Linked DNA regions of Homo sapiens. The protein of the gene in region 2 purifies or fractionates together with the protein of the main gene of each other region. This does not show direct contact. Each region holds a gene or a part of one and is shown on either strand. Other genes may lie near its edges. The genes, in order: ACAT2 and SPAG7.

Region 1 (3,819 bases), on a different chromosome or scaffold from region 2:
GCACCTAAGAAGCAGATTAGTATATGGTCTTTTTAACCTTTTTAAAGCTAATACAGTTTCAGCCATGTCTGCCTTACCTGTAATACCCATATGACAGTTGTGAAATGCATCTGTAAGACCATCACAGAGTATACTGTCAGTCAGTGGCATCTCACCTATCTTTACTCCTGTTCTCAAGTAAGCCAAGTGAGGAGCCTAGAAGTCAGAAATAAAAATGGATTTAGGCTTAGTTGCAATTAGTCTTCTCCCCAGAATACAACTCAAAACTATCTAGTATTTCCTAAGTCTTCATCTAGGCCCCTTTGCAGCCCTTCTCCCCAGTTCTAGGTCCTCAGCCAGGCCAAGGTCTAAAGACCCCTGGAATTAGCAGACTTCATCTTTCCTATTGTTGGGAACGATTACTCTCCTACCTACCCATTTTCAATTCTCCCTCAAACCTACCCATTCTGTGTCCTGTTTCCTTAAGAATTCCATTTATTCTTTCCATCGAGGCAATTAATTATCTGTTAAATGAAGAAATCCTCTAAGGGCTTAAGTAAAGCTAACAATGTGTTACCTATTTCAATGGATGACATAATGTCTACAGTGAGAATAATCAGGCTAACTAAATGATGGGGAGGGATTTCTGAGTAGCGGCCAGTCTTAACTCTCACCAACTCAACAGCAGGTATATTAGAATGGAAAGAGTCATTGATTGGACTTAGAGTCGGAAGAGTTGTATTTGAATGCTGGCTCTGGTCCTCAGTTTCCTTACCTGTAAACTGGGAATGGTATCATCTACCCTATATGGGGCTGTTGTGAACACATGTACAAAAGCACCTGGTAAAGTACTACACAGATGTCAGTATCATCCCATCAAAATCACTCCGATTATTTTTGTTACCTTTAGCCTGCCTCCTCCTGAACCTCAGCAATGGCTGGGCTGAATCAGCTTCTATCTAGGGAATCTGCACCTCAGCCCCTGAGCTGCATCAGTAGGAAGCAGGGGGTATAGTTTTTCTTTCAACCACTATGCCAGTTTGAGGTATGGAACTTGGTGAAACAAATCATGCCTGGCAAACCTACTGGAGAAGGGCACCACTTGGTGGTCCTCTTTTACATGTTCTATACCCTGAAAAGGTCAAAAAGTCTGGTCCCCAGGATCTCCTTGTCATGTGCAGGAAGGTAAGTGGCAACATCTGTTTTTTGCCTTTTACTCACAATGGGAAAGAAATTTAAAACCAAGGACATCAAGCAACTAATATGAATTTAATTCAGAAAATATTACATGCTTCATTAATAGTTTAGAAAAAGTATATTCGGTTCCAATCACACTGGTTGATAAACTTCTTATCAACCCGGATTTCCCACCCAAACTGAAGAATACTTCACATTCAAGTAGGGATCAAGGTTGTCATTTCTGTTTATTTGTTCACTGTTTGGTTCCAGCTCTGCTATGCATCTGTTTACTCTGTTCTGGCATAGACATGAGTTTCTCAGTGTGAGGTCAGTGAAAGCCACCTCATCAGAGAGGCCTTACCTTGCTCATATTTTCCATGCCTCCTGCAACCACAATGCTGGAGTCTCCTATCCCTATTGACTGGACTGCAAGGCACACAGCTTTTAGGCCTGACCCACAGATCATCTGGCAGCTCCATGCTGGAACAGAGTAGGGAATTCCTGCACCCACACTGGCTTGTCTAACAGGATTCTGCCCACAGCCTAGAAAGAGGAACACAGAGGACTCTTAGCAATCAAGGAGAAAGACAAAATGTCACAGTGAAAGTGTGTGGAAAATTGCCAGTTGGGTTACCTGCCACTTCTGAAAGCCTACAGGTCAAGTAAGTGCCCACTGGAGGCAAAAAGGCCTGTATACACTCTCCACCTGTCACAGTCTAGCCCTTGAATATATACTGCCTTGTGCTGCTCTGTAGGTATTTCATAGATATAAGCTTTCTCCTCCATAAATAAGTCATTAATACATTAAGAAAGAAGTGTCATCCTCATCTTTTGATATGGCTTAAATAGTTGGGCGCGGTGGCTCATGCCTGTAATCCCAGCACTTTGGGAGGCCAAGGAGGGCAGATCACCTGAGGTCGGGAGTTTGAGACCAGCCTGACCAACATGGAGAAACTCTGTCTGTACTAAAAATACAAAATTAGCTAGGCGTGGTGGCGCATGAGTGTAATCCTAGTTACTAGGGAGGCTGAGGCAGGAGAATTGCTTGAACCTGGGAAGCGGAGGTTGCGGTGAGCTGAGATCACACCATTACACTCCAGCCTGGGCAACAAGGGCGAAACTCCGTCTCAAAAAAAAAAAAGTGCGGGGGGGTGCTTAAATAAGCATTATCAAACCTATGTCTAATAAACACAGGATATAACCTAGGCATTATCAGTGTTTCTAACTAGGGCCATTTGCTCCCAAGATCATGGCTTAAGACACTTGAGAAGAAAAAGGGTTACTTAAAAAGGAAAACCTTTGATAATAAGCAGTTCTGTTCTTGCTTAGTATTCATTACACTATGCTTAAATGGTTATATAACAAAATATATACAAACTCAGAATTCACAAATACCTTTTTTTCTCATTCTGAGTACTGAAACACAAATATCTTTTCATAATTCAACTATGGGACTTCCTTTAGTTGGGAAGAAATACATAATTTACTTAAAGTAGCACAGAAGAGAATGGAGTTAAAAGTTTCAAATATTCTCAATCGCCATTGTCTGTTATCAGAGTCAATGGTAAATGTTTATAAAGTGGTTACTCTATTCCCAGTTTCAGATATACTCAAACCTACCACCCTTCCTTGGAGAGTTTGTGGGGAAGAACTAGCAAATAAGTCGCTGATAAAAACTTAGAGATTATATTCATCACAATGTTATCAATCTGGGATTAGGCTGGAAACTAAAAACGGGTAAGGTTACTTGAGACTGAAAACATATGCAGGATCATATACATATTAAAAAGACAGGCCCAGTGCGGTGCCTCAGGCTGTGAGCAGTGGCTCACACCTGTAATCCCAGCACTTTGGGAGGCCGGGGGAGGGGGGCGCATTACTTGAGGTCAGGAGTTTGAGACCAGCCTGGACAATATGGTGAAACCCCCCCTCTCTACTAAAAATACAAAAATTAGCTGGGCATGGTGGTGCACGCCTGTAATCCCAGCTACTCAGGAGGTTGAGGCAGGAGAATTGCTTGAACCTGAGACAGAGGTTGCAGTGAGCCGAGATTGTACGGCTGCACTCCACCAGCCTGGGCGACAGAGTGAGACTCCATCTCAAAAAAAAGAAAAAGAAGAAATGAGGTACAGGGCTGGGCATGGTGGCTCATGCCTGTAATCCCAGCACTTTGGGAGGCCGAGGCGGGTGGATAACTTGAGGTCAGAAGTTCGAGACCAGCCTGGCCAACATGTTGAAACCCCATCTCTACTAAAAATACAAAAATTAGCTGGGCACAGTGGCAGGCACCTGTAATCCCAGTCACTTGGGAGGCTGAGGCAGAAGAATCACTGGAACCCGGGAGGCAGAGGTTGCAGTGAGCCAAGATTGCGTCACTGCACTCCAGCCTGGGCAACAGAGTGGGACTCCATCTCAAAAAAAGAAAAAGAAAGAAATGAGGTGCTAACACAATTAATAATGCTAGCATTTAGCATACTACGAGCTTCATGAGAATGAGAATTTCTATCTGATATGAACATTGCTTATCTCCAGCTGCTAAAATAGTGCCTGGCACAAAGTAGGTGCTCAATAAACATTTGTTACATGATTGTAGAAGGTATCTGGCTCAAGGAATAGGACAGATCTAAGTTCAAGTGCTAGCTCCACTTCAAACTGTGACCC
Region 2 (3,365 bases):
CCTGCCTTGGCCTCCCAAAGTGCTGGGATCGCAGGTGTGAGCCACTGCGCTCAACCAATTTTTTAATTTTGTAGAGAGAAAGTCTCACTATGTTGCCCAGGCTGATCTTGACCTCCTGACCTCAAGTGATCCTCCAGCCTTGGCCTCCTAAAATGCTGGGATTACAGGTGTGAGCCACTATGCCCAGCCCGATTGCACTCTTAAAATACAGCATCTTACAAAACCCTCTGGGCCGGGCACAGTGGCTCACTCTTGCAATCCCAGCACTTTGGGAGGCTGAGGCGGGCGGATCACCTGAGGTTAGGAGTTAGAGACCAGCCTGGCCAATATGGTGAAACCCCATCTCTACTAAATGTACAAAAAATTACCCGGGTGTGGTGACACATGCCTGTAGTCCCAGCTACTCAGGAGGCTAAGGCAGGAGAATCGCTTGAACCCTGGAGGCAGAGGTTGCAGTGAGCCGAGATCACACCACTGCACTCCAGTCTGGGCAACAGAGAAAGACTCTGTCTCAAAACAAACAAACAAACAAAAAACCTCTGATAGTTCCAACTGGCCATCTTTAACCTACACAAACAGCAATTTTATGCTGTTCAACTGAAAATTATTCCCCTTCTTCTCTACCAGTGGTTCCAGGACCCACCTTTCTGTGTATAAACAAACCAGGACATTGGGTTAAACAGTATTTATTGAATGTAAAGTACCCCAGCCCCATGGGGAAGAAAATTCCAAGAACGGGGAATAATACAGATTAAATACCCACCTGTGCATTCACACTCTCACACACACACACACATGCCACGCACATATCCAAGCTCCAACGGTGACAAATCAAACACCTGTTTTCCCCCAGCCTGAGGGACAGCTGGTAGGAGGTGGTTCAGAGGTGGGGCTCCAGGATGGGCTCTAATAGCAGCAGCCTTGTCTCTCCCTGCCCCCTGCCCTGCCCCAGGGGTCAAAGGGAGCTGGGCGGGGCGCCTAGGAGGTTGGCGGCAACTCTTCCCCACTCTGCCGCAGACGCTTCTTGGCTCTGATCTCATTCATAGCCTCTTCAATGGAGCGTGTGTCCCTCTTATTGGCCACGGGCACTAGGGGCAGAGAGGAGGGTAGGGCGGGCCTAGAAATCCGTACCTCAGCCTCCACTGCCCTCCTGCCGCATCCTATGCTCCTCTCCCAGCCACCCCCAGCCGCACTGTGGCCTCACCACAGCCGTAGGTCTTATTGGCCTGTAGCATGTGGGCTGCGTCTTTGGCTGCTCCCTTGCCGATGAGGTGGCTGTACTTGTCCTTGTAGTCGCTGGCAGGGCTCACCACCACAGGCCCCTGCTGGGCTGCCTCCTCCTCTTGCCTCTGGGCCAGCTCCTAGGGGTGAAAGTGGGGGCACTGGTGCTCAGGGCCCCAGCCCAAACCCCCACCCCTCCCAGGTGGTGGGCTTCTGGACCCCAAGGGCTGCAAAGCATAGCTCACCTTCAGCTTCCGCTTCTCCTCAGCCTTCTGGGGGTCCCATTCCTCTCCACGACGGTAAGAGTCTAGCTCTTCATCTGAGGGTGCAAACTCCTGAAGAAGAGCAGAATGATGGGGTCAGAGTCCATACAAATGTTTCATTTCATTCCTTGGTCGGGGAGGGGGGATAAGGCTACAAAGGGGAGAGGAGAGAATGAGGAATTCAGGCCCTTTACCTTTTTGAAGATCATGACATAGCGACAGTCATCATCTTCCCCAAAGGAGAAGGATGTCAGGCCAGCCACTTCCACCACATCATGTCTGGGATGGGATGGCAGAGGGGAAAGAGCATCTTGAGCCAGGAGCGGGCCTAGTGCCCTCCTCTGGAGGAGCCCCCCGCTGGCCCTTTCATGCCCCGCTAGCCACCCATTTCCTTCCTCCCCCAGCCCAGGGACACTCACAGTATGCTCCTCTCGATCTTGTTCATTGGCTGAAACTTTTTCTTGATCTGCCCACTGTCTTGAATGAAATCTGACACCTCCTTCTCCATCTTGGGAGAGGGGAAAGGAAGCAGATATGAGACAATGGCTCCACCCAAGTACCCCTCTCCCTAGCTGAGCCTGGGCCCTTCTACGCCTCCCCAGCACCCTCCCCAGCCTCCAAGCCACTGGCTTCCATGCGTCACCTCTCTCAAGACATTTTCAGCAAAACTGAGTCCTCAACCTTCCAATTTTAACTTATTGGAAGTCCTTCCTGAGTCTGCCTTTGATCACTCCAGTTGTTCTCACCCTTTTACGAAACTCCACTTTCTGTTGTTTCTCTTGCTCTTGTAGTTTCTTCAGGCGGGCGGCCTGTTCTGGGGGTGAGAAATGGCAACATGAAGCCAGGGCTGGAAGCATGGGTGGGAAAGGTTTCTAAGGCTTCAAGTGAAGTGTGGTGTCCACTGGGAGGTGTCAGGCTGGGAAGGTAGGATTAGCGTTTATTCATCAAGCATTTATTGATGTTTATTCTATCTAATAGTCCCCCTTATCCACAGGGGTTCATTCCAAGACCCTCAGTGGATGCCTGAAATTGTGGATAGTACTGACCCCTATACATACTATGTCTTTTTCTATACATACATGCCTATGATAAAGTTTAATTTATAAATTAGGCACAGTAAGAGATTAAGAATAATAGACCAGGCATGGTGGCTCACGCCTATATCCCAGCACTTTGGGAGGCCGAGGCAGACAGATCTCCTGGGGTCAGGAGTTCGAGACCAGCCTGGTCAACATGGTGAAACCCCATCTCTACTAAAAATACAAAAATTAGCCGGGTGTGGTGGTGGGCGCCTATAATTCCAGCTACTGGGGAGGCTGAGGCAGGAGAATCGCTTGAACCTGGGAGGCAGAGATTGCAGTGAGCTGAGATCGCGCCATTGCACTCCAGCCTGGGCAACAAGAGTGAACTCCGTCTCAAAAAAAAAAAAGAGATGGCCGGGTGCAGTGGCTCACACCTGTAATCCCAGCACTTTGGGAGGCCAAGGTGGATGGATCATGAGGTCAGAAGATCGAGACCATCCTGACTAACACGGTGAAACCCTGTCTCTACTAAAAAAAAAAAAATATACAAAAAATTAGCTGGGTGTGGTGGTGGGCGCCTGTAGTCCCCACTACTCGGGAGGCTGAGGCAGGAGAATGGCGTGAACCTGGGAGGCGGAGCTTGCAGTGAGCAGAGATGGCGCCACTGCACTCCAGCCTGGGCGACACAGCAAGACTCCATCTCAAAAAAAAAAAAAAAAAAAAGAGATTAAGAATAACAATAATACAATAGAACAATTATAACAATGTACTGAAATAAAAGTTTGTGGCTATGCTCTCTCTCTCTCTCAAAATATCTTACTGTATATAACAGTTCTGGACTGCAGGTAACTAAAACCTT

What was found.
Region 1: the proteins of SPAG7 (region 2) and ACAT2 fractionate together in Homo sapiens (co-fractionation; one large-scale study listed by BioGRID). This does not show direct contact.

Annotation. Positions count from the first base shown.
Region 1 is NC_000006.12:159,764,887-159,768,705, reverse strand, and holds part of ACAT2 (acetyl-CoA acetyltransferase, cytosolic), read right to left. Parts: intron 1,702-3,819; coding exon 1,520-1,701; intron 196-1,519; coding exon 78-195; intron 1-77. UniProt on the Homo sapiens protein: Involved in the biosynthetic pathway of cholesterol.
Region 2 is NC_000017.11:4,958,556-4,961,920, forward strand, and holds the end of SPAG7 (sperm-associated antigen 7), read right to left. Parts: intron 2,299-3,365; coding exon 2,231-2,298; intron 1,993-2,230; coding exon 1,904-1,992; intron 1,764-1,903; coding exon 1,679-1,763; intron 1,557-1,678; coding exon 1,467-1,556; intron 1,362-1,466; coding exon 1,205-1,361; intron 1,089-1,204; coding exon 979-1,088; 3' UTR 671-978; downstream 1-670.